2 separate regions of the Homo sapiens genome follow, and region 1 is linked to region 2. Evidence: fine-mapped QTL for protein levels in blood plasma. A gene starts in region 2. The other region holds a variant in brackets. All regions are shown on one strand. Distances are between the middles of the regions. Region 1 overlaps RIT1 (Ras like without CAAX 1). Region 2 holds the start of ADAM15 (ADAM metallopeptidase domain 15).

The links. PIP is the chance, under the fine-mapping model, that this variant and not a neighbour inherited with it causes the effect. The UK Biobank Pharma Proteomics Project read protein levels with antibody pairs (Olink). The fine-mapping took linkage between variants from a reference panel, not from the people measured, so its PIPs are less certain.
Region 1: its variant is fine-mapped to the plasma level of the ADAM15 protein (UK Biobank, PIP above 0.99).

The regions. Positions count from the first base shown.
Region 1 is chr1:155,904,942-155,910,588 of GRCh38, forward strand. RIT1 (Ras like without CAAX 1) reads right to left here. Exons shown (of 6, transcript NM_006912.6): 3 at 5,509-5,565. Among named protein-coding and RNA genes, the nearest start is that of RIT1, 3.6 kb to the right of the region's middle. The variant C/G (reference allele first, on the strand shown) is at 2,937.
Region 2 is chr1:155,038,700-155,055,686 of GRCh38, forward strand. It overlaps ADAM15 (ADAM metallopeptidase domain 15), which reads left to right and starts at 12,617. Exons shown (of 23, transcript NM_207197.3): 1 at 12,617-12,766; 2 at 13,972-14,078; 3 at 14,718-14,794; 4 at 15,211-15,289; 5 at 15,451-15,527; 6 at 15,615-15,807. The coding sequence starts at 12,688. It overlaps DCST1 (DC-STAMP domain containing 1), which reads left to right. Exons shown (of 17, transcript NM_152494.4): 5 at 704-832; 6 at 1,786-1,925; 7 at 2,698-2,914; 8 at 3,015-3,158; 9 at 4,036-4,157; 10 at 4,653-4,810; 11 at 7,194-7,293; 12 at 7,426-7,521; 13 at 7,661-7,787; 14 at 8,497-8,613; 15 at 9,088-9,230; 16 at 9,358-9,471; 17 at 11,918-12,231. The coding sequence ends at 12,169. It overlaps DCST1-AS1 (DCST1 antisense RNA 1), which reads right to left. Exons shown (of 4, transcript NR_040773.1): 2 at 10,570-10,662; 3 at 7,261-7,456; 4 at 6,492-7,154. It overlaps ADAM15-EFNA4 (ADAM15-EFNA4 readthrough), which reads left to right and starts at 12,617. Exons shown (of 26, transcript NR_176418.1): 1 at 12,617-12,766; 2 at 13,972-14,078; 3 at 14,718-14,794; 4 at 15,211-15,289; 5 at 15,451-15,527; 6 at 15,615-15,807. RefSeq lists an enhancer at 11,792-11,851 and a silencer at 12,322-12,781.

The sequences.
Region 1 (5,647 bases), 860 kb after region 2:
ACTGAGATACATAAACTGAGTCTTCAACTGAAGTTTTTTTTTCCACATAGGTGATGATGTAGTTTATTCACAGCTGAAGATTTCACCTACAATTCTAAGCTAAAAAAGGATTCTGAGAAGATGTCTTTCTTAAAAAAATTAGGCTATCTGGGCACAGTGGTGACTGCCTATAATCCCAGCTACTTGGGAGACTGAGACAGGAGTATTGTTTGAGCCCAGGAGTTCAAGACCAGCCTGGGCAACACAGCAACAGCTCATCTTTTTTTTTTTTTCTTGAGACAGGGTCTCACTGTCACCCAGGCTGGAGTGCAGTGGTGCAATTTCGGTTCACTGTAGCCTTGACTTCCCAGGCTCCAGTGATTCTCCCACCTTGGCCTCCCAAGTAGCTGGAACTACAGGCGTGCTACCACCATGTCTGGCTAATTTTTTTGTATTTTTGGTAGACATAGGATTTTGCAATGTTGTCCAGGCTAGTCTCGAACTCCTGGGTTGAAACAATCCTCCTGCCTTGGCCTCCCAAAGTGCTGGTATTACAGGTGTGGGCCACTGCACTCAGCCGAGACCCCATCTCTTAGGGGAAAAAAAAAATTAGGCCTGAAAAGTAACTTTACCATTTATTAAATTGTTATTATCTACCAGACATTATACTAAGTAACTTATATATATTAATTCTTCAATAATCACAATAATCCAATGAAGTAGGCATTATTACCTCCATTTTACAGCTAAAGAAAATTCAACTTGAAAATATTAATGTCTTCTCTAAATTAGTTAATTAGTGACAGAATGAGGATTAAAATCCAAGATTGCTGAACTGAAAAGCATTATTAACCATGTGTTATACTTCCTCCTCAATACTACAAAAAAGGAAAAAAATATATAATTCACTATTTTTTTTTTTTTTGAGACAGGCTCTCACTCTATCACCCAGACTGGAGTGCAGTGGCATGATCTCGGCTCACCACAACTTCTGCCTCCCAGGCTCAAGGGATTCTCCTGCCTCAGCCTCCTGAGTAGCTGGGATTACAGGCACATGCCACTATTGCCCGGCTAATTTTTGTATTTTTAGTATAGACAGGGTTTCACCATGTTGGCCAGGCTGGTCTTGAACGCCTGACCTCAAATGATCCACCTGCCTCAGCCTCCCAAAGTGTTGGGATTACAGGCGTGAGCCACTGCACCCGGTCTAACTGACTATTTTCTAAATAATCCACAGTTTCGTAATTTCTCTTTTCTGAAAGCAAATTTCTTTATGCATATTACTATAGTAACCTTGGAAAATATAGAAAACTAAAAAGAAAAAAAAAGCCACGCAATATTTCATTCACTTAACAACTGCTGCTTACATCTCAATGTATTTCCTTTTAACATTTTTTCTTGAATTCCTGCTTCTGTCTCTTCCTCAAAGATGAAGAGCTCATTAAATCAATGCTTCTCAATTATTCATTAGGATTAGTGAGTTGTGAAATCTACTTAATGGGCCGGGACCAGCATTAAAATAAACAAGCAGAAACCTAAATAAAAATAGAAAATACCAGGCCAGGCACAGTGGTTCATGCCTGTAATCCCAGCACTTTGGGAGGCTGAGGCGGGTGGATCACCTGAGGTCAGGAGTTCAAGACCAGCCTGGCTAATGTGGTGAAACCCCATCTCTACTAAAAATACAAAAATTATCTGGATGTGGTCACAGGCGCCTGTAATCCCAGCTACTTGGGAGGCTGAGGCAGGAGAATCGCTTGAACTGGGAGGTGGAGGTTGCAGTGAGCCAAGATTGTGCCACTGGACTCTAGCCTGGGCAACAGGAGTGAAATTCTCCGTCTCAAAAAAAAAAAAAAAAAAAAAAGAAAAAAAGAAAAAAAAAGAAAGAAAATACCAGAGTGGGTGAGGTACAGTGGCTCTCACGCCTGTAATCTCAGTGCTTTGGGAGGTCCAGGTGGGAGGATCACTTGCGCTCAGGAGTTTGAGACCAGCCTGGGCAATAGAGCGAGACCTCATCTCTACTAAAAATCCAAAAATATTAGCTGGGCTTAGTGGCCTACGCCTGCAGTCCCAGGTATTTGGTAGGGTGAGGCGGGAGGATCACCTGAACCCAGGAGGTCCAGGCTGCAGTGAGCCAAGATCACAACACTGCACTCCAGCATGGGCAACAGAGTGAGACCCTGTCTCAAAAAAAAAGAAAAGAAAAGAAAATATCAGAGTGCACCAGATGTAGTGAGGTAAAGTTTCATAATATTTTAGCTACACATACACATGCGCTTGTGTATATAATTTATATATACATATGCACACATTCATATGCTTTTTTTTTTTTTTTTTGAGGCAAAGTCTCACTCTGTCGCTCAGGGCGGAGTGCAGTGGTGCAATCTCGGCTCACTGCAACCTCTGCCTTCTGGGTTCAAGGAATTCTCCCACCTCAGCTTCCTGAGTAGCTGGGATTACAGGCATGCAGCAGTAACACGCCCAGCTAATTTTTGTATTTTCAGTAGAGATGGGGTTTTACCATGTTGGCCAGGCTGGTCTTGAACTCCTGACCTCAGGTGCCTTGGCCTCCTAAAGTGCTTCGATTACAGGATTGCAGGCTCAGGATTACAGGCGTAAGCCTCCGCACCCGGCCTTGTATGCTTTTATATCTCTACCAGTTACAATGTAAAGTTTTTCTGAGTTTACAGCCAGAGCTTGAAATCAAATGCACTAAATTAGAAACTCAAGAACAGAAACCTCATCTTTTTGATCACCACTGTACCCTGAGGGTAAGCAGTGCTTGGCACATAATAGAAACTCAGAAGACATAAGTATTTGCTGTTGAATCAGATAATATTGCCAGGAGAGTAGTTAACTGGAGGAAAATTGATTAAAACAGATAACTTGGCCGGATGCGGTGGCTCACGCCTGTAATCCCAGCACTTTGGGAGGCCGAGGCGGACGGATCACAAGGT[C/G]AGGAGATCGAGACCATCCTGGCTAACACGGTGAAACCCCGTCTCTACTAAAAATACAAAAAATTAGCCAGGCGAGGTGGCGGGTGCCTGTAGTCCCAGCTACGCTGGAGCCTGAGGCAGGAGAATGGCATGAACCCCGGGGGGGCGGAGCCTGCAGTGAGCCGAGATCATGCCACTGCACTCTAGCCTGGGCGACAGTGAGACTCCATCTAAAAAAAAAAAACAAAAAAAAAAATACAGATAACTCTTACAGGAGACGAGTATTTGAGTTTTACTTTAAAGAAAGGGAAAGACGCGGCCGGGCACGGTGGCTCACGCCTGTAATCCCAGCACTTTGGGAGGCCAAGGCAGACAGATCACGAGGTCAGGAGATCGAGACCATCCTGGCTAACACAGTGAAACCCTGTCTCTACTAAAGGTACAAAAAATTAGCCGGGCGTGGTGATGGGCCCCTGTAGTCCCAGCTACTCAGGAGGCTGAGGCAGGAGAATGGCGTGAACCCGGGAGGCGGAGCTTGCAGTGAGCCAAGACGGCGCCACTGCACTCCAGCCTGGATGACAGAGTCAGACTCTGTCTCAAAAAAAAAGAAAGGAAAAGATGCTTTTGGAGTTCTCAAGTACATATGCGTAAGCCCTAAATTCATTTTATTCCTAGAACTCCCGCCATAATTTGAATCTCTGAACAATTTTTTTTTTTTTTTTTGAGACAAAAGCTTGCTCTTATCCCCCAGGCTGGAGTGTGATGGCACTATCTCGGCTCACTGCAACCTCCGCCTCCCAGGTTCAAGCAATTCTCCTGCCTCAGCCCCCGCAGTAGCTGGGATTACAGGCACCCAGCACCACGCCCGGCTAGTTTTGGTATTTTTAGTAGAGATGGGGTTTCACCATGTTGGCCAGGCTGGTCTCGAACTCCTGACCTCAGGTGCTCCACCCGCCTCGACCTCTCAAAGTGCTGGGATTACAGGCATGAGCCACCGCGCCTGGCCTGAATCTCTGAACAGTGTTCTAAATTTGATATAGTACATGAAAAAGTCAAGACTTTTTCTATTTTTCCCATCCCTGGAATCATGTGCTCTATGAAATGACCATATCAAAGCTGGGCCACCACAAAACATTATTGGCTTTGCGGGAAACAGAGCAGCAGAGGCCTGACCCAATGGAAATCCTTCCTAGAGAACTAGGATCATGGCAAAGAGTGTCACATACTGAAAATAATAAGGCCCGGCGCAGTGGTCACGCCTGTAATCCCAGCACTTTGGGAGTCCGAGGTGGGCAGATCACGAGGTCAGGAGATTGAGACCATCCTGGCTAACACGGTGAAATCCCATCTCTACTAAAAATACAAAAAAAAATTAGCCGGGCTTGGTGGCGGGCGCCTGTAGTCCCAGATACTCGGGAGGCTGAGGCAGGAGAATGGCATGAACCTGGGAGGTGGAGCTTGTAGTGAGCCGAGATTGTGCCACCGCACTCCAGCCCGGGCAACAGGGTGAGACACCGTCTCCAAAAAAAAAAACAAAAAAAGAAAATAACAGTACAGCTGACTTTCTGTGCCCTCTCCCATTCCCACATCCATTTTTCTTTCATATTAGGATATAAACCCTTAGAATCAAACCTGCTTCCTTATGGTTTAGGAATGACAGTAATGTTCTTAGTCTTTGTAGAGATTAGCAATTAAAAAATAAAAAAGTCAAAGCAAACAAAATGACTTTTTTACTCTATTAGCGTTCTGCAACAAGAGTTAAGGACCATAAAAGACATCGGAGGGCTAGGCACAGTGGCTCACGCCTGTAATCCCAGTACTTTTCGAGGCTGAGGTGGATGGATTACTTGAGGTCAGGAGTTTGAGACCAGCCTGGCCAACATAGTGAAATCCCATCTCTACTAAAAATACAAAAATTAGCCGGGTGTGGTGGCAGATGCCTGTAATCCCAGCTACTCAGGAGGCTGAGGCAGGAGAATTGCTTGAACCCGGGAGGCGGAGGTTACAGTGACCGGAGATCGCACCATTGCCCTCCAGCCTGGGAGACAGTGCGAGACTCCATCTCAAAAAAAAAAAAAAAACAACAGACAGACATGGGAGAAGACATTACTACGTAATGAACTTAAGGTATAAGGAAGTAAACCAAGAGCTCCAAGTGCAAGATGTCCAGGCTTGGCATGTCTGGGTTGTAAGAGTTCAGCAGCCTGGCTCTACTTGTTTCTCTGCTTCCTTTTGTGGAAGTTCAAACCAGCTGACTCACAGTTACAGAGCGAGTCTCAAGTCATACCCTTAGAGAAGTGACAGCAAGAAAAGGCTTCGTTAAGTGGCCTGTATACAACCATAAAAAAATACAACAAAGAGAGTTGTCCCATTAATGTTCAGTAAGAGACAAAGACTAAAGATGGCTTATGACATAAAGTCTGAAAAAAAAAGAAATATTCAGTTGCTTACCAACTGCTGATACCCTTGTTTCTAAATAAATCTGAATTAGACTCCAAAAAAGCCTCAAAATATAAATAGTTAGAAACTACTGATATTCATTAAGATATTTTTATGGGGTATATTTGGAAACATAAGTGATGATCTGGCTTACCAATGGTGGGATCATGATCTTCTGGGAATCGGTGGCTGATGAACTGCATGGTCATGGCTTCAAAAGAAGAAATAAAAGTCAAATCCTCACAAAGGTGACCCACAGAGAGAATTTTAAGTATTAACATTGCAAGATAGCA
Region 2 (16,987 bases):
CCAGCCTTCTCAGCCCCACCCCTCCCTGAAGAAATACGTACTCCCTCCTTGGCTCCCACAGCGCTCTATAAGCACCTCCCTTGTGCACTTAGCACATCGTGTTGTAGTCACTTGTTTACTCATCTGTCTCTTTCTCTGGATTATGAGCTTCCAGAAGTTCACTGTCTCCTTGCAGAGACCACAGGGAGACACATGTGAAACTGCTAAAACATACCAGGCGGTACATGACCAAGGGCTAAAATTAGAGGCAGGGACTGCGAGTGCTGTAGGTGTCTGAGTACTGGGAGTACTGAGGTGGGCTCTGATCTCTCTTCTGACCATTCTGAGCATGAGCACCTGTTTCCAGATATTTTCTCTTGCTCTCTCTGCTCCCTCAGCACCTAGGGTCAGTGTCACTGTAGCCCGGAAAACCTTGGCTTCCTTCCCTAACACAAACACACACAAGTCAATCATTTGTGGTTTTTTAAGTTCTAGCCATCCCTCTATGCCCTTCCAGAGACTGGCACATAGCTAAACTCTGTGAGTGGCTGCTGAATGAATGAATGAGTGGCCCAGCAGGTCTATCAGAGTCAGTGTAAATGGGGATAAGGGCAGGATGGTGGTGGTTCCAGAAGGGGGTGTTGCAGGTGGGTGCTCTGGTAAACGTGAGGAAGGGAGGCAGCTTCCTCACTTCAGCTCACCACCTCCTGGGCTCTCCTGACAGGCTTGGGGGCCATGGGCTGGGGGACCTCCCCTCACATCCGCTGTGCCAGCCTCCTACTAGTACCCAAGATGCTGGGCAAGGAAGGCAGGCTCTTTGTCCTGGGATACGCCTTGGCTGCCATCTATGTGGGTGAGTATGTGGGGGCCAGTGAGTTACACTGAAGCAGTGACCCTGGGTGGGTCATCCAATGGGAGCCAGGCCGGGTGAAGGAGAAAAGACAGGAGTGTCATCCCAGCTGCTCTAACTCACTGTATGTCCCTGAGGGAGCTCCTCCCCATATCTGGGCCTCCTCAGTTTATAAGAGTGAAAACATTGGCCAGGCACGGTGGTTCATGCCTGTAATCCCTGCACTTTGGGAGGCTGAGGTGGGTGGATCACCTGAGGTCAGGAGTTCAAGACCAGCCATGGTGAAACCCCATCTCTACTAAAAATGCAAAAATTAGCCAGGCATGGTGGTGCACACCTATAGTCCCAGCTATTCGGGAGGCTGAGACAGGAGAATCACTTGAACCTGGGAGGCGGAGCCTGCAGTGAGCCGAGATTGCGCCATTGCACTCCAGCCTGGGTGACAGAGCAAGACTCCGTCTCAAAAAAAAAAAAAAAAAAAAAAAAAAAAAAAAGGCCAGGCACGGTGGCTCACCTGTAATCCCAGAACTGTGGGAGGCCGAAGCGGGCGGATCACGAAGTCAGGAGTTCGACACCAGCCTGACCAACATGCTGAAACCCCGTCTCTACTAAAAATACCAAAAAATTAGCCAGACATGGTGGCGTGTGCCTGTAATCCCAGCTGCTCAGGAGGCTGAGGCAGGAGAATCGCTTGAGCCCGGGAGGCGGAGGTTGCAATGAGCAGAGATCGAGCCACTGCACTCCAGCCTGGGCAACAGAGGGAGACTCCGTCTCAAAAAAAAAAAAAAAAAAACAGTGAAAAAAATCAAAGGTTGAACAAGTTGACCTTTCATAGGCTCTCGGCCCCACCACTGTATAGTTCTAGGCGATGGGCACTATTTGCAGAGGGAAGCTGAGCGGGTTTGAGAAAGTGCTGGTTATACAGGGAGGTGACCAACCAGGGCCTCTTTCTCCAGGGCCAGTAGCCAATCTGCGACACAATCTCAACAACGTGATCGCATCGCTGGGCTGCACCGTGGAGCTGCAGATCAACAACACCCGCGCAGCTTGGCGCATCTCCACAGCCCCCTTACGGGCCATGTTCAAGGACCTGCTGGTCAGGAATCTGCACAGGCAGAGCCTGGGGGGTCCCTCTCCCTGGGGCCAAGTTAACTTGAGCTGGGAGTTGTCACCCTGGATTTACAGTTTCCCAATGGGGATACTACTGGCATTTTTTGCAGAACTATTCCCAAACATTGCAGAACGTGCCCTGGTCCTGGTGTTAAATGCCAGGAGAGCCCCTGAGTCATTAGGACATGCTCTATACACATTTCCTAATACCTGAGTGGTCAGTACTCTGGACAGCTGAACTAGAATATCTAGGAAATTTGGGGGCTTTGGCCTTGAGTAGCTCAGAAGTTTCGAAGACAAGAGTATTCAAGAATTGGGTATTGGAAGGCTGGAGACTGGGGGTTTGGGAGAATTGGAGAGCTGGAGAGTTGGGGACATGGGGGCTGAGGGGTTTGGAAGTTGGGGGCATTCAGATGGCATAATGATCTCAGAGACTAGTGGTGAAGGGTAAGGTCTAAGGACCTGGGGAACCACTGACCAGGAAGGGTCTGGGATGGGAGGACTGAGGAAGAGCTGAGAGTCTGGGAGGTACGCAGAGCCAGGACATGTGGCATCAGACAAGGCAGCTGGTGGGGGGGCTCCCAAGGGCAATGGACAGCCGGGAATTTGAGGTGAGAGGCTGTGTCTCAGGGCCTAGGCTCCCTGTCGGCCTGGGGTGAGAACCCAAAGCTTGGCTACTGGGGGAGGACAGGCCCTCAGGCAGCAGAAGTTCTAAAGCCCCAGCCCTCACCCTTTCCTCCCTCCACCTCCAATCCCAGAGTAGCAAAGAATTGCTGAGAGCAGAGACTCGGAACATCTCCGCCACTTTTGAGGACCTGGATGCCCAGGTGAATAGTGAGACGGGCTACACGCCTGAGGATACCATGGACTCAGGGGAGACAGCCCAGGGCAGGGAGGCCCGCCAAGCCCCAGCCTCCAGACTCCACCTGTCGACACAGAAGATGTATGAGCTGAAGACCAAGCTGCGTTGCTCCTGTGAGGGGTATCCCTGGGGAGTGGAGGGTGGGGTGGGATGTGGGGCCAGCATTGTGGATCAAGATGTGGGAACCTCAGACACCCTTGCTCCTTCCTACAGATGTGGTGAACCAGGCCATACTCAGCTGCCGTCGTTGGTTTGACCGCAAGCATGAACAGTGCATGAAGCACATCTGGGTCCCACTCCTCACCCACCTGCTCTGCCTGCCTATGAAGTTCAAGTTCTTCTGTGGCATTGCCAAGGGTCTGCACAGTTGCAAAGGGGTGGGGAGCATCGGGGTAGGGAGCTGAGTCCTTGGGACCCACTGGTAGGTGACAGGCAGGAAAGCAACAGATGAGGAGGGTTTTGGCCCTGAGGCCACAGCATCCTTAGAGCCCTCCACCTGCTGAATAGCTCTGTGACGCAGGGTGAGTTACAGCAAAGCTCTGAGCTGTGGCTTTTCATCTGAAAGATGCGCATGGGCAGAATAACAGTAGTTCTTGCATTAATTTTTTTTTTTGAGACGGGGTGCTTCACTCTTGTCACCCAGACTGGAGTGCAGTGGCGCAATCTCGGCTCACCGCAACCTCTGCCTCCCGGGTTCAAGCGATTCTCCTGCCTCAGCCTCCTGAGTAGCTGGGATTACAGGTGGCCGCCACCATGCCCAGCTAATTTTTGTATATTTAGTAGAGACGGGGTTTCACCACGTTGACCAAGCTGGTCTTGAACTCTTAACCTCAGGTGATCCACCCACCTCAGCCTCCCAAAGTGCTGGGATTACAGGTGTGAGCCATCGCACCCAGCCACATTAAGGGCTTTTAAGGATTTATGGGGCTAACGTATGTGAAGGCAGTGGCAGAGCTGGCACACAGAGGAGCTGCTCTGTAAACGCTGGCTCTCCTTACTGATGTTTGTTATGGTTGAGGATAGATTGACAAAAATGAGGGAACTCAGGTCTGGTTCCTGGAGGGCAGGATCCAAAGAGAGCAGAGAGGGGAAGACTCAGCATTGGTGTGGTAGCAAGCCATGGGCAGAGAGACAAAAAAGCAGGATGAGGAGGACTACAGGAGGACAGGCAGGCCAGGCCTGCACCTGGAGGACAGGCCCGGGGAGGCCCCTGACCCCGTCCACTGTTCACCAGTGATGGAGGTTTGGTGCCGCAATCGCATCCCAGTGGAAGGCAACTTTGGGCAGACCTACGACTCCCTCAACCAGTCTATTCGTGGCCTGGATGGGGAATTTTCAGCCAATATTGACTTCAAGGTAGAAGGCAAGGGCGAGGGTTGGTGGGGGGTAGATAGGGAGTGGGAGGAGGGCATGAGGGAATAGAGCTAGAGGAAGGACAAGTGAGAGGGCACAGGAAAGAGGTGACCAGGGGTGAGGGAGGGGGACAAGGAGGGGGAATGTCGCTGGTGTTGAGGGGGCCCTCTGTTTCCCATCTCCACCCCCGAACACCTGAGATGGGCAGGGGAGGGGAAAGGTGGTGAGGAGGGGACAGTGCCAAGCCTGTGGTTTGTGCAGACTTGGCCTGGGGTGGGAGCTATCAGCCAGATATGAGATGATGTCAGCTGATGTAGGTGCAGGGGAGCAAGACTGTGTCCAGGAGGGTGGTGAGCAGAAGGAAGTGACAACTCCTAGAGGTCCTGGGAGGGCCCCAGGGACACAAGTGGGGTACTGGGGAACAGATGTCATGAAGAGGTGGGACCCAGGTCTGACGAGGTGGCCGCAGGCTGAGTTTGCTCATGTGCCCTCCACCAGGAAGAGAAGCAGGCTGGGGTGCTGGGGCTCAACACAAGCTGGGAGCGCGTGAGCACCGAGGTGCGGGACTACGTGTACCGCCAGGAGGCCCGGCTGGAGTGGGCCCTGGGGCTGCTGCACGTGCTGCTCTCCTGCACTTTCCTGCTGGTCCTGCATGCGTGAGCCATAGTCCCCACCCCAGCAGCCCCTCCTCTGCCCCGGACTGGAGCCCTGCCCTGAGGGAGGCTGTAAGGATGGAACCCTAGCACCTATCCTCACCTCTGAATCTGAATATTATTTACCTTTGTCTTTGTTTACACAAAGTTAAAGGAAAAGTGGACATTTTGTCAGAAGAACATTACCCATGTTCCCACTGCCTTAAAAGGCCAACCGTCTTCATTCATCCACCTCCTTCCAGCCTTTATCCCAATACTGATTTTTTTTTTTTACGTTTAGCTTTGACTTTTGATTTTTTCTTGCCCTTCATATTCCCCTTGGCTCTGACTTTGTGCCATTTTTATCTTTCCATTTTGCTTTCATTTTCTCCTGCCTGCTGCGTTGGCAGCGACTTTCCCTCCATTTAGAACAAAGTCCTCAACCCCACCCAGCCCAGTGTCCAGCTGGGCTGCCCCGGGCCTTGCTCTGCTCTAGCTCCCCTGCTGGTCTCTGGACCCTCTATTTCCCATCTCCACTCCCAAACACCTGAGATGGGCAGGGCTTGGGTGAGGGCTGCCACAGGGCTGTTGCTCTGTCTGCCCCTATGTGGGGGGCCTAGAGTGACTGCAAGTGAGTGGGTATGTGTGTATCTAGGGCCCCATGGGAAGACAAAGATGAAGGAGCTCTATTCCTGCCCCCAATAAGCTCATGATCGCCAGGCATGGCGGCTCACTCCTGTAATCCCAACATTTTGGGAAGCCGAGGTGGGAGGATGGCTTGAGTTGAGGTGTTTGAGACCAGCCTGGGTAACACAGTGAGACCTCGTCTCTACAAAAAATGAACAAAATCAGCCAGGTGTGGGGCACATGCCTGTAGTCCCAGCTACTTGGGAGGCTGAGGCAGGAGAATCACTGGGAGGTCGAAGCTGCAGTGAGCTGTGATTGTGCCACTGCATTCTGCATTCCAGCCTGGTGTCAGAGTGAGAGCTTGTCTCAAAAAAAAAAAAAAAAAAAAAAAGCTAATGATCTAGTTGGGATCATGAGACACCCACAAGACAGAGATGGTTCAAGGGCCATTCTATGGATTGGCTTTTGAGACGTGTATGGGAGCTGGGAAGGTGCCCCTTGGAAGGGCAATAACTGGGCTCCAAATGGCCGCAGATGCGGAACGGTGGTCAAGGAAAGAAGGGTGTCCCTTGCGTAAGGCTCCTGGTATCCATGGGATGCAGAGGGCAGAGGCTGGCCTGGAGAACTGAAGTGGGCATGACCAGAACAGTCTGGAAAGCCCTGCAGGAAGACCTGGAACTGGCGGTGGTGGCAAGATGGCCTCAGGAAGTCTGGAGGGAGGGCGGGAGGCCAGGCTGGGTTGGAGGTTAGGGAGCCTGGCCCGGGTAGAGCATGGCAGGAAGATGGCTTGAGATGGTGGGGGAAGGGGAAAGGTGCAGCGAGGCTCAGAGCCAGCTTGTGGAGGGAAGGAAGGAGGCACAGAGTCAAAAGCTACTTCCAGGCTTTCAAGCTGGGTGAGGTCATGCACTGAAAGGACAGCTGGCGGGAGGGCAGGCCCTGGCTCAGGAAGCCCAGGCACCACCTCTGTGAGCCTCTCCACAAGAGGGCACTCACAGTATGTCTTTGCACTTACAGTAGTTTTAAAGGCAAAGATGTGGATTTTTACAGGGCCCCAGAAGCAATAGCATTGAAACTAATGTTTCACACTTTACAGAGTTTGTTTAATGTACTTTTACAGTTTTAAACACATTTGCAGTAATTAACATTTTTTCCTTAGCAAACTGAAGCATTATGTAGGGCTTTGGGAAATACATGGGGGATAGCTATATATGCAGGCATGCACCCATGCACACGTGCACCGTGCTCAAGGGTAGCCAGGGAGAGCCAGGGTGTATTGGGGGAGGATGGAGATGGTGGTCTGGGATGAGTTTTGCCCCAGCACACTTCCAGGAGATATGCTGCAGGCAAAGCCAAGAGGCAGGAATTTGTGAGTCACAGTGGATTAGGTGATTCCTGAAACCTCAAGGAGTTTCCCCCTCTCTGTAACTCTGCTCGATATTCATCCTGTAAGATGCATGCCTGTCCCTACCTCAGATGCACACATGCAACTCCCTCCCAGACAGGCTGACCATGCCCTCCTCTGAGCCCCCACCTCATCCCCTACTCACTTCTGCTATGTCTCACCCATCATGTAGGGGGATGTCTTCCTCTACACAATTGGAAGGCAGGGACAGAGTCTTCTCCCTGTTATCACCATCCCCTAGCAGTGCCCAGGACATAGATGGTGCTCAATGAATGCTGGCTGGTTGGTTGAATGACTGTGCCTCAAGGAAGCCCATGTTTGGGGATAGATGAGGAGAACCTGGAAGAGATGGAGACATCCCTGCCCATCCACCCACAGGTCTTTCTCCTACATGGACAGCTATAACCATGACATTCGTTTTGACAACATCTACATCAGTACCTACTTCTGCCAGATCGATGACCGCAGGAAGAAGCTGGTGAGTGGGCACGGCACTGCCCGGGGATGCCTTGCTGCTGTGTGCCCTGTGTGGGTTCATGCTCCAGGAAGGCAGAGAGGAAAGGGCAGAGGGCCCTTGGGCTTCCTAACTGTGTGGACATTTGTTTTCCAGGGCAAACGGACTCTGCTGCCACTCCGCAAAGCTGAGGAGAAAACCGTCATCTTCCCTTGCAAGCCCACCATCCAGGCCTCAGAAATGAGCAATGTGGTGAGGACAGCATGGGGAGCGGACTCCTGGGTGCAAAGACAGGCCTGAAGGTGAGGGTGGAGGGTAAAAGGCACCAGAGAGTGCTCCGTGCCCAGGCAGATGGCACTGCCCAGCTCTGCCCCTCCTGCTCCTTGGCCAGGTGAGGGAGCTCCTGGAGACACTGCCCATTCTGCTGCTGCTGGTGGTGCTGTGTGGCTTGGACTGGGCTCTCTACTCCATCTTCGACACCATCCGCCACCACTCCTTCCTGCAGTACTCCTTCCGCAGTAAGCCCATCCCCCAGACACATTCCAGGCCCAAGAGACACCCTCTGGAGAACTCCAATGCCTGCACAGCCACCCCACCCTAGTTCTTCCAACTGTGCCTCGTCCTTCTGCCTCTTTTTTTTTTTTTTTTTTGAGACAAAGAGTCTCGCTCTGTCACCCAGGCTGGAGGAGTGCATTGGCACAATCTCAGCTCACTGCAACCTCCACCTCCCAGGTTCAAGCAGTTCTCCTGCCTCAGCCTCTTGAGTAGCTGAGATTACAGGTGTGAGCCACCACGGCCAGCTAATTTTTCTATTTTTAGTAGAGACAGAGTTTCACCATGTTGGTCAGGCTGGTCTCGAACTCCTGACCTCAAGTGATCCACCTGCCTCGGCCACCCAAAGTGCTGGGATTACAGGTGTGTGCCACTGTGCCAGCCATCCTTCTGCCTGTTCTTTTCCCCTTTCTGTGATTCAGCCCCTCCCTGTCCTCCTCAAGGTCAAATGACAGCCCTGCAACCTGACAGCTCTCACAGCAGGGGAGGGGGGCTCTGTACCCCTTTACACTTACAACTGGGAGCAGGGAGGGGTTAGGATTCAGGAAGGGACAGAAAGACTCAGGCAGCTGAGAAGCATTTCTGTGTCTTGACCCCTCCCTGACATCCACCCCCTTAACACATTCCTGATTTCTCCACCTGCCCTGACTTCCCTACCTGTCCTCCTGGCCGCAGGCAGTCATAAACTGGAGGTGAAGGTCGGGGGAGACTCCATGCTAGCCCGGCTTCTTCGAAAAACCATTGGGGCCCTGAACACCTCCTCAGAGACAGTGATGGAATCAAACAACATGCGTGAGTGATGCTGAAAGTTTGGATCAGAGGAATCGAGGGCGGTGGGGCAAGGGTCAAAAGACTCCAAGGTAAAGAGTTAGGGGCCTGGGCCTTGGGTGTGGAGAGATGGGGGTTGGAGCGCTTGAGCTGGGGAAATCGGAGCAGGGAACACATCTGGGCAGGCTTGAAAAAGGGGAGCATGACCAGCTTCAGTCAGAGGAGTCTGGAGGCCAGGGTCTTGTGGCTAGGGGGCCCCAGCCCTCCAGAGCAGCACTGTCCAACAGGACATTCAGTCAAGATAGAAATCTGCAAGATCTGTGCCACATTGGGCCCAGCGGCTACAGTACTGACAGGGCAGTTCTGCAGTGAGGGGCAGGCAGGAGGAGAGCAGGGGAATCAGAGGACTGCACCTCCCACTGGGATGGGAAGTCCAACCCAGGGCTGCCCTGCCCCTTGGCTGGTCCTGACCAGACCCCTGGCCTGCCCCTCCCCTAGCCTGCCTGCCCCAGCCTGTGGGCCTGGATGCCAGGGCCTACTGGAGAGCTGCAGTACCGATTGGCCTGTTAGTGTGTCTCTGCCTGTTACAGGCTTTTGGCTACCGACTCCGGAGGGTCATCGCAGCCTTCTACTTCCCCAAGGTTTGCCCCTCCCCAGACCTCTCCACCCCTACACACCTGCACACACACACACACACCACCCAGCTCCCTACCAACTCCATATTTGGGGGATGCCTTTCTCTATCATTGACCCCCTTCCTGCCCCCAGCGAGAGAAGAAGCGGATCCTGTTCCTCTACAATGACCTATTGAAGAAAAGAGCAGCCTTCACCAAACTCAGGAGGGCCGCTATCCTGAGGCGGGAGCGACAGCAGAAGGCTCCGGTAAGTCCAGGCGTAAGTGCTGCTGCCAGCTCCTGGCTGGGTCTAAGTACAGCAGGCAAGGGGCAGCTCCCTTCAGTCCACCCAGCACCCACCAATGGTCGCAGGCCTACTCGAGCCTGGTAAGTTCTTTTTATTTTTTGAGATGGAATCTCACTGTGTCGCCCAGGCTGGAGTGCAGTGGCACGATCTCGGCTCACTGCAACCTCTGCCTCCCAGGTTCAAGCGATTATCCTATCTCAGCCCCCCACTCCACAAGTAGCCAGGATTACAGGCACACGCCATCACGCCCAGCTATTTTTTTGTATTTTTAGTAGAGACAGGGTTTCACCATGTTGGCCAGGCTGGTCTCAAACTCCTGACCTCAGGTGATCTGCCCACCTCAGCCTTCCAAAGTCCTAGGATTACAGGCGTGAGCCACCAAGCCCAGCCAAGCCCGGTGTAATCTGATGCAACACATGCTGAGGGCCCCAGCCATCCAGCTCCTAAGGTCAGGGCTGTGCCCGTTTCTGAATCCCAGGATTCAGCCCAGCCTAAGACACTCAGTGGACCATTAGGAAGCAGGCAGAAAAGGAGAATGAGATTTAATACAGTCTGCTCATAGAAAAGCAAGAGGGCCGCACAGAAACAGGAGGCCCAAGGCAAAACCAAAGTTTCTACCAGAGGGCTGCAGACCAGAAGCTCAGTGCAGTTCAAGGGACAGGAGGAGGCAGGTGGGCTGGGAGTCAGGAAGGCCTCATGCAGGGGCACATGGTAAGGCACATGGAATCTGAGGAAGCAGACTCCAGTCCATACTCCCTCATTAAGTTGTGTCACCTTGGCCAAGGTCTTCACTGAGCCTCAGTTTCTCCCTCTGAAGAATGGCAAGACTGGAGAGATCTGTAAGGCCTGCTCACTGGAGATCAGCCTAGAGTGGTGGTCAGGTGTGGGACTCCGGTGCCAGAGGGCCTAAGTGTGTATCCCGGCTCCTTCCCTCATTACTATGACAACGGTGTGACCTTGAGCACATGACTTAACTGCTGTGCCTGGGCTTTTGCCTTCCATAAAATGGGGTTAACTACTCCATCTGGTTGTTTTAAGGATTAAATGAGTTGTACTTACATGGTGCTGGCATGCAGCAAGTTCCATATGCATGCATGTTATCATTGGGTGACCCTGGGCAGTGATCACATCTCCAAGCATCAGTTTTCTCACCTGAAAAAAAGGAGATGATAATAACACTATCTGCCTTACATGACAATTGAATTGAATTTTTTTTTTTTTTTGAGACTAAGTCTCACTCTGTCGCCCAGGCTGGAGTGCAGTGGCGTGATCTTGGCTCACTGCAACCTCCACCTCCCCAGTTCAAGCGATTCTCGTGCCTCAGCTTCCCGAGTAGCTGGGATTACAGGCACACACTACCACGCCCGGCTAATTTAGAATTGAAATAATTTATGTACAGTATCTTAGTACAGGACCTGACATTATAAACAATGAGTGGCAGCCATTCTTATTTAATCAGTCCTAACAAAGTTCATAAAAGTGAGACTGTGTTTGCTTAGCTTTTTCCCTAGGGCCTGGATACCCCCAGCCCCCATGACACACAATAGGGGCCAAATGAATGTGTTGTGAAAAAATGAAAAACAAAAAACAAAAAAGAACATGCTGGGATTCCTTGACAGGGTCGTGAAGCAAACTGAATGTGAATGCACAGATGGAAATGTGCCAGACAGTCATTCCAAGCAGAATGTGCAAAGACTCAGTCCACAGGGAATGCGAAGTGCCAGGGCTAGTCTCAGGAGAAACTGGCTCAGAAGAGACAGCTCTCAGGGAGGGCTAAAGTAGGAAAGAGGCTAGAAAGGGACCAGGTGAGGGAAGGCTCTGAAGGCCAAGCCCAAGAGTTCTGCCTGTCTGGCAGGCAGCAGGGCCTCTGGAGTTTCTTGGGCAAAGAGTGGCTGCTTCCTGGGTAAGGTGGCCTGTGGAAAATCCCTGACAACTGTGTAGAGACATGTCGTGAGGGATGGCAGGGAGCATAGTGAACTAGGTTTGTGGTTTGGAATCAGGGCCCCTGGGGTCCAGCCAAGTTGGATTGTTTACTATCTGTGTGACTTTGAGAGTCACTTCACCTTTCTCAACTGTAAAGTGGGGATAGCAACAGTGATAGTCGATCTGGCCTGCTCACTTCTCAGCCTCACTGTGAGAACCAAATAAGATGATTTACAGGAAAGTGCAAATGAGAGTTGTGGCTGATATCCGCTTGGAGAGAGCCTGGAGGGTGCATCCTCCCATTCTCCATCACAGAGTTGGGGAGGGAGGCACCCTCGCCCTCCAGGGGTTTCCTTTGTCCAACCCAGCCTCCTCCAACACGCGGGAATTGTCAGGCCTGGCGACTTCAGACAGGAAACGCTGTCCAGTTCCCCTTCTTTCCCGCCTCGCTCCCGGGCTGGCGCTAACGCCCACCTCCCAACAGCGCCACCCGCTGGCGGATATCCTGCACCGCGGCTGCCCGCTCCTGCGCCGCTGGCTGTGCCGGCGCTGCGTGGTGTGCCAGGCACCCGAGACGCCCGAGTCCTACGTGTGCCGGACGCTGGACTGCGAGGCCGTGTACTGCTGGTCGTGCTGGGACGACATGCGGCAGCGGTGCCCGGTCTGCACGCCCCGCGAAGAGCTCTCTTCCTCCGCCTTTAGTGACAGCAACGACGACACTGCCTACGCGGGGTGAAGAGGCGTCCTGCTCGCTCTTCCGCACCGTCCTTCCCGGTTAATAAAATGCCCTGTACGCTTCACGTGGGTCGGGGACTGGGGTGAGCCGCGCACTGCCTCGCCTGCAGTCGGGAAAGCCTGCCCGCCCGACCTCTCCGAGCCAGGCCGCGCACAGGAGGCAGGGAGGCCGCGAAGCTACTAGGGAGGGGTCCGGACCTGGCGCCGGGTGAAGGCGCGCCGCCCAAGCCGGTCGGACCGGGCACCGGCTCCCACTCCGCACAGTTGCGGGGAAGCGGTAGCGCTGAGCAGCGCGGGCGTAGTGGGCGGTGTCCCCGCTCCCGAGGCACCCGGCGCGCAGCGGGGCGGGCTTTGCCGGGGGCGGAGCTTGGCTTGGGGCCGGGTGGGAGGGGGCGGGCCGGGGCGGGGCCTGGTGGCCGCGCGGCGCTGCTGGGTTCTCCGAGGCGACCTGGCCGCCGGCCGCTCCTCCGCGCGCTGTTCCGCACTTGCTGCCCTCGCCCGGCCCGGAGCGCCGCTGCCATGCGGCTGGCGCTGCTCTGGGCCCTGGGGCTCCTGGGCGCGGGCAGCCCTCTGCCTTCCTGGCCGCTCCCAAATATAGGTGAGTCCTCCGCCTGGAGTGGGTCGGGGGGCGGACTGGGAGGGAGGTGCAGGAAAGTCGGAAGGCATTAGGGTAATGGGGCCGGACGGAGACCCTGGGAGAGCCCAGCCAGAGCGCGGCCCGCCCTGGTCCGCTGTCCTGGGCCTAGGGCCCGGTGACTTGGCGATGGGGTGAAAAGAGAAGGAGGGGGGATGCCGGCGCCCCCTGCCTCCTGCCTGGTCATCCTCTGCGCGGTCCCTGCGGACACTTTCAGGCTCAGGTACCAGGTACCGAGGGGCCTGTCCAGCGCCACTTCAAGATCGTGATGAGAGGGTCGCTGCTCCCCAGGACTGGCATCTTCGCTGCTCTGGGGCCTAGCTAACCGTTCGACCCGGTGCCAGGGCGCTGAGCGGGCATGGCTTGTAGGGTTTAGTGAAGAGGATTCTCTCTAGCCTCTATTCCAGGCCTGGGGCCGCCAGGCACTCCTCACCCTGGTGCTGTTGCCACCAGTGCCTGGCCGAGCGGGAGGGGCCCGAGATGAGCCAGGAGAAGGGAGAATTGGCCAGGAAAGAGGCTGGGACACCAACTCCTCCTTGGAACTTTCACTTCCCGCTGCTGTCTTGGGCCGGGACCGAGAGGGCAGGCGCGGGTGGAGTGTCCGGAGGAGAGAGGGCCATTGTGTGTTGGGGGGGTGGGGGGTGCTCGAGGAGGAAGCAGAGGCTGTAGGCAGCGGGTGTGCCTGACTGGGCATGAGGGTGTTTAGGGAGGTGGGGGTGTTTGCACTGCTCACCCAGAAATGGGCGTTCCTGGCATCTCCGATGTGAGCGAAGGGGAGGGTGAGCGGGCACCCGGCCACAAGGCTTAGCTCAGTCTCGAGAGGGGGCGTTCCTGAAGTGGGGGGAGAGTGATTGGGAGGGAGTGGGAACCGGGGAGGGTCCTGTGAGAACCTGGGATTGGCCGGAAGGGGACAAGGAGGGCCACAGGCTGCGCAAGCCGAAAGTCTTTCTTGGGGACTTGTGAATGGGTTGGTGGGTGGAAAGCCATAAATTAGAGAGACACCCTCTCCTTCCAGTATTCTTCTTTAAGTCTCAGCATGCAATGTGGAAGCCCCTCAGGTACCTAAGGGTCTTGATGGGCTGGGAGCTGGTGGATCTGAGGGCACCTGTCACCCCCAGCCCTGCTGTCGATTCCCTCAGTACTGTCTTGGGGTGTCCTGGGACCTGCAGGTGGCACTGAGGAGCAGCAGGCAGAGTCAGAGAAGGCCCCGAGGGAGCCCTTGGAGCCCCAGGTCCTTCAGGACGATCTCCCAATTAGCCTCAAAAAGGTGCTTCAGGTGAGCTCTCACTCCCCTCTAATAAATAAACGAATCCACACACGCCCCGGTATAGCCAGGTGTCTCAAAGCCAAAGCTTGGCTGAGGAGCTGGTGGGTAGAGCTCACTGTAGTGGGTCTATCCCAGGCCCAGCTGCCTCTCCCACCACACCCCAGCACCTGGCTTCACTTATCTCCCTCTCCCTCTGCACACACGTGTATCTGTCTGCCTCAGCCCCACCCAACCCATCCATCTCCACTGGGGAAATTGTGAAGCCAAACTTGCTTTCTTCATCTCATGTTGTCGGTTTTCTCAGTGGGGGGATTTGGAAAGAGTCAGGACCTTACCAAACCCCCCCCCCCCCACCCCATTCTAAAGCTGAGTCAGAGGAAGGGCTGGGGCTTGTGCTGGGTCCTACACGGTGCTTCCTCTCTGGGCAGGAAGCCGAGAAGGGGTGGCTCAGATACCTTCCTTGACCTCCGCACACAACCCCCCAGAACAATGCTCCAGGCCAGGCAGGGTTTCCTGGCCCCTCCCCTGGGATCCCCCCACCAGTGATCTAATTGCTGGTGCTCTTCTGTGGGCCTGAGGTTTTCTGGTTAGAGAGGCTGGGAGTTGTGGACAGGTCTAGGGAGGTGACCTGCCCTCTGGTGCCCACAGACCAGTCTGCCTGAGCCCCTGAGGATCAAGTTGGAGCTGGACGGTGACAGTCATATCCTGGAGCTGCTACAGAATAGGTAATAGTGATGGTGGCAATAACAGTGACCACATGGCCAACAACTTGTATAGCATTTATTATGTGCCAGGTACTAAGTGCTTGTGCTCATTTAATCCTCATAACAGCCCTATAAGGGATATACTATCATGTATTATTGTCCTCACTTTATACATGAGGAAGTCAAGGCACAGAGAGATTAAATAACTTGCCCCAGGTCACACAGCTAGTATGTGGTGAAAACCAGATTGGAATTCAAATAAACTAACAGAGTCAGTGGCCCAACCAGTATACTTTGCTGCCCCGGGGTCAGGAGTGGAAAAGTTGGCTGCGGGGGTTGCCTGGTCCCCAGCCCCACAACCACCTTCAAGCCTCTGCTTGTCAATGCACGACCTGGGAAGTGGCTTTAGCACTGCCTTCTTTTTCTTCACTCCACAGGGAGTTGGTCCCAGGCCGCCCAACCCTGGTGTGGTACCAGCCCGATGGCACTCGGGTGGTCAGTGAGGGACACACTTTGGTGAGTCAGGCCCTCTTGTGCCATTTTTGGCTTAGGGGAAAGAGGGAGGGGGTGGCTGGAAGGTGAGAGGACACTGCATATTTTTACCGTCAAGCTAGGCTCCTCAGTTCCAGTCCTGGTGTGCTCTCTGAGACAGCACTAATGTTGTTCCCATGCTGCAGGAGAACTGCTGCTACCAGGGAAGAGTGCGGGGATATGCAGGCTCCTGGGTGTCCATCTGCACCTGCTCTGGGCTCAGGTATACTGGGCGGATTTAATGACAGTAGAGAAAGTAAGGAGACCCAGGCATGGAGCTGAAATGTTCTCTGACTTTCTTTTTTCTTAGAGGCTTGGTGGTCCTGACCCCAGAGAGAAGCTATACCCTGGAGCAGGGGCCTGGGGACCTTCAGGGTCCTCCCATTATTTCGCGAATCCAAGATCTCCACCTGCCAGGCCACACCTGTGCCCTGAGCTGGCGGGAATCTGTACACACTCAGAAGCCACCAGAGCACCCCCTGGGACAGCGCCACATTCGCCGGGTGAGGATGAATGGCAGGGGGGTGGGCTTTGGTTGTCTTGAGGGCTGATCCCCAGACACTTAGAGCTATGTGTGCACAGTAACAACAGCTCCTGCGAATGGAGCACTTTCCACATGCTGGGCACTTTGTGAACATTAGCTCGTGTACTCCTCCCATACCTAGGAGGTAGGTGCTATCAATAGCTCTATTTTAAAATGACGAAACCTTACAAAAAGTATCTGGGCATGGTGGCGTGCACCCGTAGTTCCAGCCACTCAGGAGGCCGAAGTGGAAGAATCGCTTGAGCCCAGGAGGCAGAGGTTTCAGTGGGCCGAGATCGAGCCACTACACACCAGCCTGGGTGAAAGAGTGAGACCTCGTCTCAAAAAATAAAATAAAAATAAAATAAAATAAAATCTAGCTGAGACAGATTAGGTGGTTTGCCCGAGGCCCTACAACTAATAAATGGCCTATCCATTTATTAGTTGTATTTGGCTCTTCATCTGTCTTATGATCCCATTTGCAGAGAGCTCTCACTTGGTTATAGATAATACATAGTTACCAATGATGAAGCAATATAAACCCAATTTCCTAATTTGTAAAATGAAGATAATAAAACTACTTGCTGCATAGAGTTGCTGGGAAGATTAAATAAGTCCATATAGATGTAAAGTGCTTAAAACTATGCCAGACCTATGGTAAGTGACAAGAGTTGTTATTGGGATTTTTAAAAATTATTATTATTATTATTATTATTTGAGACAGAGTCTCGCTCTGTCTCCCAGGCTGGAGTGCAGTGGCATGATCTCGGCTCACTGCAAGCTCCGCCTCCCAGGTTCACGCCATTCTCTTGCCTCAGCCTCCCGAGTAGCTGGGACTACAGGCGCCCGCCACTACACCCGGCTAATGTTTTGTATTTTTTAGTACAGACAGGGTTTCACCGTGTTATCCAGGATGGTCTCGATCTCCTGACCTCATGATCCACCCGCCTTGTCCTCCCAAAGTGCTGAGATTACAGGCGTGAGCCACCGCACCCAGCTAAATTACTGTTTTTTAAAAATTTGAAAAAAACCACTGAGTTTGGAGCCAGAAAAGCAGGGGTCTACTCCAACCTTCATTATCTACTTCCTGGTCCTCCTTGGCAAGTTCCTGGGCCCTCTGGCCTTCAGTGGCTCATCTGTAAAATGGGCTCTTCACCCTC